2 separate regions of the Homo sapiens genome follow, and region 2 is linked to region 1. Evidence: fine-mapped expression QTL. A gene starts in region 1. The other region holds a variant in brackets. All regions are shown on one strand. Distances are between the middles of the regions. Region 1 holds the start of UAP1L1 (UDP-N-acetylglucosamine pyrophosphorylase 1 like 1). Region 2 holds the start of MIR126 (microRNA 126).

Region 1 (5,358 bases):
AGCTCACTGGGACCCCGCGGGTCCCTGGTCAACGCAGGCGGCTCTGGCCGGCAATCCGCAGCCACCTGCTGCCGCACACCTGGTGACCGCCTTAAGGAAGCCTCGGGTGAAGAAGTGGTTGCAGATGTTGCCTGCATTGTACAGCAGGCTCCCGTCGGAGGCACGTAGCTGTGCGGTCTCAGGACTGATCTCGCTGTACTCCACCACCTGGGGGACACCGTCCACCTGGCACACCACGCCCACGGGCTCCTCGGGGTATGCCTTTTCCACCACCTGCAGCCAAGACCAGGGATGGGTTCCGAGGGCTGGGCGGAGGGGCGGGGCTCCGTGAGGGGCGGGGCCAGCCTCGGGTGCGGGGCGCCGCGCAGTCGGGCGCTAACCTTGGCGCCACAGTCTGCGCCCTGCAACACACAGAAGCCGATGAAGACAGGGTCCGCCAGCCGCACCAGGATGTTGTCCACACAGTACACGTGCACAAACTCCACTCCCCGGCGCTCCATGTCCTCCAGGATCTTGTGGTCCTCCAGCGCGCAGTAGAGGCCCCCGTTGCCGTCTGCAGACGGAGAAGGGAATGGGCATCGCGAGGGCTCCCGCCAGGGATCGCTCTGGGAGTCTAGGACGTGCTGGAGGCGGGGGAAGCCCCGGCCTTGTGCCTAAGGCAGCCCTGGTCACTAACCAGACAGCCCAGTTGGTGTACCATGTGACAAATGACGATCAAGGCCCAGAAAAAGAGGCGCCTAACCCAGGACCACACAGCCTCGGGGCAGCCGCGAACCCGGGCGCGTGGACCCCCAACTACGCTCCCAGTTCTAGTCTGGGCGGTCCCTCCCCGTCTCAGGAACGGGCCACACCTGGGGCCATGGCAACTTTGTCTTTCCGCTCCAGGATAACCTTGCCATCAAAGGTCACAGCAGGCAGCAGGCGCTGCTCAAACATGACCACGTTGGCGGGGTCCAGGTGGAAGAAGTTGTGCTCCCTGAAGAACTCGGCCGTGGGCCCCAGAGTGAACTCGCTGGTCATGACGTACCTGCAAGGGAGGCGCGGTGAGCCGGCCGCGAGTACGCCTGGCCCTGCAGGCAGACGGGGCTCGGACCAGAGCCGGCATCGGGGTTCGGGGTCCAGTGTCCAGTTGGGGCTGGGGCCAGGCCCCATTTTGGGCCGGTTCTGGGCAATGTCCCGGTCTGTGCCGGGGTTGGGGCTCGCGTCTGGAGCGGGGATGTGGGGGGGCGTGGGGAAGGGTACCTCCGGGCCGAGGTAGGGCAGGCAGGACACACCAGGGGACGGTGCAGCGGGTCCCGTGGCGCTCACCGGCCAGCTGCTCCACCCGCCGAATCCGCTCCGCCTGCAGCTGGTACAGGGTCTTCCGGCTGGGCAGCCCCACACGGTACATACCCTTGGGGTAGGTCACGCCCAGGCGAGTGCCCTGCCCCCCAGCCAGCAGCAGGACGGCCACCTTGTTCAGAGAAATCTGACGGAAACCTGGGGGTACGGGCGCCGTGAAGGGACGCCCGGGACCCGCCCACCCTTCCGCTTTAGGGGAAACCAACTCTGGGGCTGGGGCGCCAGGACTCGGGGGCCGGAACGCGTGAGGCGAGACACGTCTCAAAGTAGCGAGGAGAACTACAGTTCCCCGAGCGCGGCCTCGGTTCCCACCCGCTCCGTGGGCACGACCCCCTGCCGGCCCCCAGGGCCTCCCACCCCGCTTACCTTCCTCCTCCCAGCGCCGCCGTGTCTCGGGGTCGCTGCGGCTGGCCCTGCCCACGCGCTCTGGGGGCAGGGGCCGCAGGCGCGCGGCCAAGTCGGGCGGCGGGCCGTGGGGGCGCGCGCAGGCCTCCGCCGCCCGCCGGCAGTGCTCGCGCAGCGCCTCGGGCTCCAGCAGCGCCAGCTCCGCCAGCAGCGCGGCTCGTGGCTCCGGCGCCAGCTCGGCCCAGAAGCGCAGGAGGTGCTCCTGGCCAGCGCGCTGCAGCCGGGCGCGCACGTCCTGCTCCGAAGCCATGTCGCCGCTGCCGTCTGTCAAGTCGGCACTCGTGACCCGCGCCACTGACCAGCGTCACGAGACCGGGCGGGCGGTGTAGACCCCCCAGTGGGGCGGGCCCCGGGCGCCCCGCCCCGCCCCGCCCCGCCCCGCCCCATCCCGCCCGGTCCCGCGCCCTGCCCTGGAGCCCGCCCACCCCCGCTGCGCACCCCAGACTCTGTCCGGGTTCTCTCTGACCCCGCCCTGTCTACATCCCCCCAGCCCCCCCGCGTCCGGTCCGAGACTCGAGACAGGGCCCAGCCCCATCTCTCCAGCCTGTCCCCCGTCCCTCTCCGTCCCCTGGACCCGCTCCGGTGTCTGGCCCTGGCCTGCTCCCTCGAGCTCCCGTCCCCGTTCCTGCTCTTCTCCAGGCCCCGGGCCCATGCCCGCCCTGTCCACTCCGCGCCCCGCCCCGAGAGATCCCAGGACCCTCTGGGTCGCGCCAGCTGGCGTGGGCAGAGGAATCGACCATTGAGCTAAGGGAGGAAGAGGCCCCAGGGACGCCCCGCAGGGGAAAGCTAGGTTCTGTCCCAGCACGGGCTTTGAACCTGAGAGTGGCATGGCCACCTTTGCGCTAACCAAGACTTGGACGGAGACCTCCTGGTGCAGAGACAACCGGCCAGAGTGCATTGAAGAGGCCTGGGCTACGGCTGAGCTGTTGGGAGGCTGGAACCAGACCAGGTTCCGGGATGCCATCCCGCGGCTTGGGGCTCCCTCCCGCACACCCTTCCTGCTTCCCATTGCCTGGTGACCAGAGCGCTCTGCAGCCCCTCGCCCACATTGTTATTTTACTATCAGGTTTTAAAATATCTTGCTTGTGGTCGGCGCGGTGGCTCAAGCCTGTAATCCCAGCACTTTGGGAGTCCTAAGTGGGGTCAGGAATTCGAGACCAGCCTGGCCAACATGGTGAAACCCCGTCTCTAATAAAAATAGAAAAATTAGCCGGGTGTGGTGGCAGGCGCCTGTAGTCCCAGCTACTCGGGAGGCTGAGGCAGGAGGCCTTGAACTCAGGAGGCGGAGGTTTCAGTGAGCCGAGATCCTGCTGCTGCACTCCAGCCTGGGAGACAGAGTGAGACTTCTCAATAAAAATAAAAATAAAATAGTTTGCTTGTGAAAAATATGAAAGGGTAGCTTCTGCCAGTTGGGCACAAAACTTTCTCCTAGAAACTATATAGTAAGTCTAAAAGTAATATATGTGACTGCATAAAAGAATTCAAATGGTGGCCAGGTGCAGTGGCTCATGCCTGTAATCCTAACACCTTGGGATACCGAGACAGGATGATCGCTTGAGCCCAGGAGTTCAAGACCAGCTTGGGCAACATGGTGAAACCCCGTCTCCACTAAAAATACAAAAATCAGCCAGGTGTGGTGGCGTGTACCTGTAGTCCCAGCTACTTGGGAGGATGAGGCACGAGAATCACTTGAACCCGGGAGGCGGAGGTTACAGTGAGCCAAGATCGCACCACTGCACTCCAGCCTGGGTGACAGAGCGAAACTCTGTCTCAAAAAAAAAAAAAAAAAAAAAACCGGGCGCAGTGGCTCACTTCTGTAATCCCAGCACTTTGGGAGGCCAAGGCGGGCGGATCACCTGAGGTCTGGGGTTTGAGACCAGCCTGACTAACATGGAGAAACCCTGTCTCTACTAAAAATAGATACAAATATTAAATATAAATATAAATATATAAGCATGGTGTTGCATGCTTATAATCCCAGCTACTCCAGAGGCTGAGGCAGGAGAATCGCTTGAACCTGGGAGGCGGAGGTTGCCATGAGCCAAGATCGCGCCATTGCACTCCAGCCTGGGCAACAAGGGCGAAGCTCTGTCTCAAAAAACAAACAAACAAACCGAAAAAGAAAAACAAATCATGCTGTTACAGGAAAGAGGTTCCAGACCTCAAGAGAGGGTTCTTGGATCTTGCGCAAGAAAGAATTCAGGGCAAGCCCATACAGTAAAGCAAAAGCAAGTTATCAGGAAAGTAAAGGAATAAAGAATGGTTTCTCTACAGACAGAGCAGCCCTGAGGGCTGCTGGTTGCCCATTGTTATGTTTTTTTGGATGACATGCTAAACAAGGAGTGGATAATTCATCCCTCCCCTTTGTAGACCATATAGGGGAACTTCCTGACGTTGCAGTGGCATCTGTAAACCGTCATGGTGCTGGTGGGAGTGTAGCGGCAAGGACAACCAGAGGTCACTGTCGTTGCCATCTTGGTTTTGGTGGGTTTTGGCCGGCTTCTTTATCGGAACCTCTTTTATCAGCAAGGTCTTTGTGACCTGTATCTTGTGCCGACCTCCTGTGTCATCCTGACTTGGAATCCTTTAACCATCCAGAAATGCAGCTCAGTAGGCCCCAGCCTTATTTTACCCAGCTCCCATTCAAGATGGAGTTGCTCTGGTTCACACACCTCTGACAGTGATCTAGGACCCAAAATGAAAACTAACATCTCCCTCATGCTGCCCCGTGGACCCCTCAGGCAGTTGTGTTTCCTTGCAGTTGGGTTCTGCCCCCACCTCCACACACATGCCCTCACTGAGTTTGGGAGGGGGCTTCACCCCTGGGGCAAGGCCCACATGCACTCTTCTGGACCTGCATGGAGTTGCTTTTCGGGCCTGCCTCAGGGTCTCTGCACTTCCTGTTCCTCCCTCCTGGACCGCTTGTCCCCAGAGAAACGTGTGGCTGGGGACGCATTTGGTCAGGCCTCAGCTCCCCAGGCCACGCCCACTCGGTGAGCACCTTCCCATCCTCCGTGCCAGGCTGCCTTTCTGCATTCTTGGCTACCTGACTCCCCTGTGAGAAGCGAACCCCACAAAGGCGGGGAGTTGCTGTTTTTGTTTTGTTTTGTTTTTTGTTTTGAGACCGTGTCTCATTCTGTCGCCCAGGCTGGAGTGCAGTGGTGCAATCTCGGCTCACTGTAACCTCCGCCTCCCGGGTTCAAGTGATTCTCCTGCCTCAGCCTCCTGAGTAGCTGGGATTACAGGCGCCCGCCACCACACACAGCTAATTTTTTGTATTTTTAGTAGCGATGGTTGGCCAGGCTGGTCTTGAACTCCTGACCCCATGATTTGCCCGCCTCGGCCTCCCAAAGTGTTGGGATTACAGGCATGAGCCACCGTGCCCAGCCCAGGCAGGGCATTGTTTAGGCCAGTGGTCTGCCCCCATCACCTCAGGTAAATGCAGCACACAGTAGGCACTCAATCAATGTTTGTTGATTGAACAAACGAGTGTTGAACCCCAGCCCACACCGTGACTGGGCAACAGCAAATGTTCAGGGAGTACCTGCTGCATGAATGAATTAATGAATGGCCTGTTCTGCTCCAGTGGTTTGTGGTGGTTGAACATCGTTT
Region 2 (5,358 bases), 400 kb after region 1:
CCACCCCTCCCCCGGGCTAGGGCTGCCTCCCTCACTGGCTTCCTGAGATGGAGAGGACTGGGAGAGAGGCGTGGGCAGGGAAGAGTGCCATAATCTCCTCCTAAACCGGACAGGGCCCTGCCCCCCTGGCTAGCTGCAGACCCAATATGGGGACAGGTGTGAACCAGGCAAACACGTGCTAGCTCAGGAGGGCTTCCTAGAGGAGATGAGTAAAAATTTGCAGGATGAGCTTATGGAACTCTGGGCCAACCAGAGCAGGACACATATCCCAGGTCCCAGGGGCAGGACAGCCACAAGGACCCATGGCAGCAGCGAAGGCAGGGGTGGGTGGGCCGCAGGACAGGGCTCCCCAACCACATGCAGCCTGGGGTGTGCCTGGCCTGTCCCCAGGGCTGCCTCAGCTGTGCGTCTCCCTGCCTGCAGGTGCCCATCGTCCCCGTGGTGTACTCTTCCTTCTCCTCCTTCTACAACACCAAGAAGAAGTTCTTCACTTCAGGTACCCCCACATGTGTGCACCCGGGGTGTAGGCCCCGCCTGACCCTACAGTCACGGAGCCCCGGGCCCCTCATCGTTCCCATTTCCGGGTGGCACCCGTGGCGTGGCCACACGGTGACCATGTGGCGAATGAGTGACTCAGGCTGGAGTCCCAGCTGTGGGCTTCATGGCCTCATGGCCCTGTGAGATGGGTGGTGCTGGGCCCATTTTTCAGATGAGAAAACTGAGGCTCCAAGAGACTTCACACGGATGGACCCCAGCTGTGCACACAGCTTGGGGGCCTGGAGGGCGGCCTCTGAGCCCATGTGTCCAGGCTGATGCCCGCATAGGGTAGATGGAACCCAGGCAGCCCAGGGGCACAGGCTGCGGGGCTCATGACCTCTTGCCCCTTCCAGCCAGTTCCCAGAACGTGGGCACCTGGTGCCCAGGCAGGACAGTGGGGTCAAAGTTGGAGAGCAGTGGGGGAACCCAGCTCCATCTCTCCCACAGCCCCTCGCCCCGTATGGAGGGCAGAGGCCAGGCAGTGAGGTAGGGGCTGATCAGGAAGTGGGGCTTTCTGGGGGCAGTAACAGGGGAGCGCAGACTTGTCGAAAATGCGGCGTGAAGGCCAGGCAGCCATGGGGTTTACTGCAGCAACGTTACTGCAATTAAAATAACCCACCACGGCTAGGGAGTCCAGGGGAAGAGCCCGGCCTCGGGCTTCCCAGGGAGGGGCTGTGGGGGGCTGGGGAGAGGCGAGGCCAGGGCAGCAGGCTGAGGTGGGCCCCAGCTCCCCACAGGCCACTGAGGTCTGTTGCTTCCCCCACAGGAACAGTCACAGTGCAGGTGCTGGAAGCCATCCCCACCAGCGGCCTCACTGCGGCGGACGTCCCTGCGCTCGTGGACACCTGCCACCGGGCCATGAGGACCACCTTCCTCCACATCTCCAAGACCCCCCAGGAGAACGGGGCCACTGCGGGGTCTGGCGTGCAGCCGGCCCAGTAGCCCAGACCACGGCAGGGCATGACCTGGGGAGGGCAGGTGGAAGCCGATGGCTGGAGGATGGGCAGAGGGGACTCCTCCCGGCTTCCAAATACCACTCTGTCCGGCTCCCCCAGCTCTCACTCAGCCCGGGAAGCAGGAAGCCCCTTCTGTCACTGGCCTCAGACACAGGCCCCTGGTGTCCCCTGCAGGGGGCTCAGCTGGACCCTCCCCGGGCTCGAGGGCAGGGACTCGCGCCCACGGCACCTCTGGGAGCTGGGATGATAAAGATGAGGCTTGCGGCTGTGGCCCGCTGGTGGGCTGAGCCACAAGGCCCCCGATGGCCCAGGAGCAGATGGGAGGACCCCGAGGCCAGACGCACACTGTCCGAGCCCTCTGCTCAGCCGCCTGGGACCCACCAGGGTGCAGCTGGGCTCCAGGGTCCAGCCCACAAGCTGCATCAGGCTCTCTGGGAGAGGAGGGGCCTGGAGGGCCAGGAGTCCCAGACTCACGCACCCTGGGCCACAGGGAGCCGGGAATCGGGGCCTGCTGCTCCTGCTGGCCTGGAAGACTCTGTGGGGTCAGCACTGTACTCCGTTGCTGTTTTTTTATAAACACACTCTTGGAAGTGGCTGGGGAGCTGTGGTCACTCACAGGGCGGGCAGGTGACCAGGGCGGTGGAGGCGACGC[T/C]GTGTCTTCCCAGCTGCCCTGCCTAGAGGCCCAGGGTGCAGGCACCGCCACCCACCCGTGTTCCCTATCCAGGAGTGGACCCACATCACCCTATACTACTTCCATCGATGGGTGGGGGTGTCGCCTAACGGGCAAGTGTGCCGGGATCCTCAGGCTACTGGGAAGGAGGCCAGAGATTTGCTCTTTGGCCTCTGGTTGGGGCCAACATGTCCCCAGGACAAAGCTCTCTGTGGCCTCACAGAAACCACCTGCCCACCCCCTCTGCCTTGGACCCCCTCCCCACCCCACGACTGCCCGCTCCACCAGGCCCCCTTTGCCAGCTGGCACCCAGCAGTGGGTCTGGGAGGGGTGGCCAGGAGGTGAGCGCCCTCCTCCCAGGCCCCCAGTCCATCCACTGACACAGCAGCTCACGTTTCATTTTTATTGTGCTGGGGGTCAGGCAGCAGCCCCCACTGAGGCCCCACCCAGCCTCCGGGCTGCCTGGCCTGTGCCATGGGTCCCAGGCTCCAGCAGGGAGCTCGTACCTTCCCTCAGCTGAGGGCCCACCTGGCCTTGGGATGCCGTTGGGGTAGCCAGGGTGGGGGTAGCCAGGGGTGGATTCACAGAGAAGATCCCAGCCCATCCCATGCCAGGGTCTGGGGAGCCTCCCGAGGAAGGGGAGGAGGAAGAGGAGGAAGGCCCTGCCTGGCCTTCCGCTCAGTCACCCCGAGGTGGTTTCTGGACCCCCAGCATGTTGGGCAGGGGCATGGGGGCTGCAGGGCGGCGTGAGGGGCTCAGTCCAGCCTGGGGCGCTGGGCAGTCACGAGTCTTTCTTGCAGGAGCCTAGGGTTGGATGAGGCGAAGGTCAGAGATCACTGCTCCCCACAGCCTCCCCGCCCAGCTAGATCTGACTGGCCCCTTGGCCTTTGGTCGCCCCCGACCCCCAAGCCTGGGTAGCCCCTCTAGGCCCACTGGGCCCAGACCCGGGAGGAGGGCTCTGGAGGGTGGGGGCACTCACAGGACCCCAGCTGCTCCTCCAGGAAGGAAATCTGCTCGCTCAGGGAGTCGATGCGGCCGAGCTGCTGGAAGGAGTGCACCAGGAGGCTGCCGGGGTCCGGGAGCCCATGCTCCAGTGCCTGCGAGGCCAGGCTGTGCAGTGGGGCCAGCACCAGCTGCAGCTTCTGTGGGTGCAGAAGGGCAGTGACCCTGGGCCGGCCCCCGCCCTCTCTGCTCCACCGGGGTCTAGGGAGGACCCCTGGGAAGGGCTCCACAAGCCTCCAGCCCCCGCCTCCGCGGCAGGGCTCCAAGTGTCCACTAGAGGGGGCTGCCGTGGCAGAAAAGCTTGCCGCAGAGTGGGTGCCTGGGGCATCAGGCTGGCGGGGTGGTCCCAGCCTTGGGGTCCCTGGCAGGAGAACTAGGGGGACAGCTGGACCACTGGCCAGTGGGAAGACTGGCAAGAGCTCTTTGTCCTGGTGGGGACAAAGATGGGGGGGTGGGGAGGTCTCGTCTGGGTCCAGGCTCTGTGTATTGTCTGGGGGGCTGTCAAGCTTGGTTCCTCCGGCCCTGGGGGGTCCTGGTCAGTGTCCAGCTGCTTCTGCCCAGCATGGATCCAGGCCAGGGCCCCCTCGGCAGTCAGCAGCGAGGAAGCCACCTCCCCAGGGCCAGGACCTTTTCAGACCACCCCCAGCCATCCGTGGGTCGGGACCATGTCCCAGGAGACTACGGAGCCTGTACCCGGGCCTGGGCCTCTGCTGTTGTGAAGACCTGCCCCCTGCCGACGTCTCACCTCCTCCAGCAGGTCCACCCTGGACTGCCTGCCTCCCCCCCCGACGCCTCATCTCCTCCAGCAGGTCCACCCTGGACTGCCTGCCCCCCCGACGCCTCACCTCCTCCAGCAGGTCCACCCTGGACTGCCTGCCCCCCCGACGCCTCACCTCCTCCAGCAGGTCCACCCTGGACTGCCTGCCTACCCCCCCGATGCCTCACCTCCTCCAGCAGGTTCACCCTGGACTGCCTGCCCCTCCACACCTCACCTCCTCCAGCAGGTCCACCCTGGACTGCCTGCCCCCCCCCCCCCCCACCAATGCCTCACCTCCTCCAGCAGGTCCACCCTGGACTGCAGCCTCTGCACTTCTTCCTTCATTGCACTGTCCACTCCTGCGGGCAGAGCCAGGCGCTGGGTCACGGCCGGCCGGCTCCCCACCCACACCCCCAGGCTCCCTCCTGTCCCCAGGGAGAGGCAGAGCCAGAAGACTCAGGCCCAGGCCTCTGCCGCCCCCGCTGCCTGCCTGGCGCTGGCCAGAGGTCTCAGGGCTATGCCGCCTAAGTACGTCGGGGCGGGTGGCTCTGCGCAGAGGCTCAGGGTCCCGGCCACGCTGAGGGAGGTCAAGGCTGAGGTCTCAGCGGCGTTTTCGATGCGGTGCCGTGGACGGCGCATTATTACTCACGGTACGAGTTTGAAGTGTCACAGCGCGTACCAAAAGTAATAATGTCCCGTCGCCAGCGGAGGCGTGGCGTCTTCCAGAATGCTGCGCTGGATGCAGACAGGACCCCGGGACGGGGCACTTCTGCCTTCTTGGCTGATATGAGGCTCCGGGCAACCTGCCCCCAGTTCTCGGGAACCCACCTATCCTCCCTCCCCATCCTCCCTCCCTGGAGAGGGAGTCCCCACCGCCTTCCGCCCAGATTCCAGTGCCCCCCACCATGCCTAACAGCCACACGGCAATGTCCACTGCCTGCCCGCCTCCCCAGGCCAGGCACAGCCAGGGCTGTTTACCTGTCGGGTTGGGGGCCACCCTGGGGGGCCCTCCCTTGGGCACACAGAGTGTACCGTCTGCAGACAGGCTGTGCCCCTCCCAACACTGGCACCAGTAACTGCCGGCGGTGTTGACGCAGCGCTGGGGACAGCCGCCCCTCCTAGCACTGCATTCATCCACATCTGCAGGAAACGGGGTGTCAGGCGGCCATGCCTGCGGGAGGGGTCCTGCCCACACAGCTCCCTTCACAACCACCCACTCATGGGCCAGCAGTAACCCCAGGACATGCAAGGAGGTGCCCAGGACCCTTCCAGGGCCCCCCAGGGTAGAGCCAGCCTCACCTGACTGGCAAGTGTCACCCCGCCATCCTGCAGGGCAGCGGCAGCGGCCAGGCTGGACACAGCTCCCTCCGTTCCGGCATGGCGGCTGGCATATTGCTGTGGGCGGGGGAGGCTGGTCACCAGCTCAGTTGGGTCCC

Evidence for each region. PIP is the estimated chance that this variant, and not a neighbour inherited with it, causes the effect.
Region 2: its variant is the best candidate, but not a certain one, in a credible set for the expression of UAP1L1 in skeletal muscle (FUSION, PIP 0.72).

What each region holds. Positions count from the first base shown.
Region 1 is chr9:137,074,171-137,079,528 of GRCh38, reverse strand. UAP1L1 (UDP-N-acetylglucosamine pyrophosphorylase 1 like 1) reads right to left here and starts at 2,012. Exons shown (of 9, transcript NM_207309.3): 1 at 1,708-2,012; 2 at 1,275-1,479; 3 at 852-1,027; 4 at 381-553; 5 at 80-273. The coding sequence starts at 1,996. RefSeq lists enhancers at 410-1,288, 4,864-4,923, 4,634-5,247 and silencers at 1,650-1,749, 1,760-1,819, 1,830-2,079, 2,090-2,179.
Region 2 is chr9:136,669,873-136,675,230 of GRCh38, reverse strand. It overlaps EGFL7 (EGF like domain multiple 7), which reads right to left. Exons shown (of 11, transcript NM_016215.5): 7 at 5,222-5,317; 8 at 4,901-5,062; 9 at 4,217-4,281; 10 at 3,143-3,305; 11 at 2,553-2,967. The coding sequence ends at 2,945. It overlaps AGPAT2 (1-acylglycerol-3-phosphate O-acyltransferase 2), which reads left to right. Exons shown (of 6, transcript NM_006412.4): 5 at 424-496; 6 at 1,304-2,088. The coding sequence ends at 1,479. It overlaps MIR126 (microRNA 126), which reads right to left and starts at 4,629; the gene lies at 4,545-4,629. RefSeq lists enhancers at 1-456, 4,797-5,296, 5,297-5,358. The variant T/C (reference allele first, on the strand shown) is at 2,146.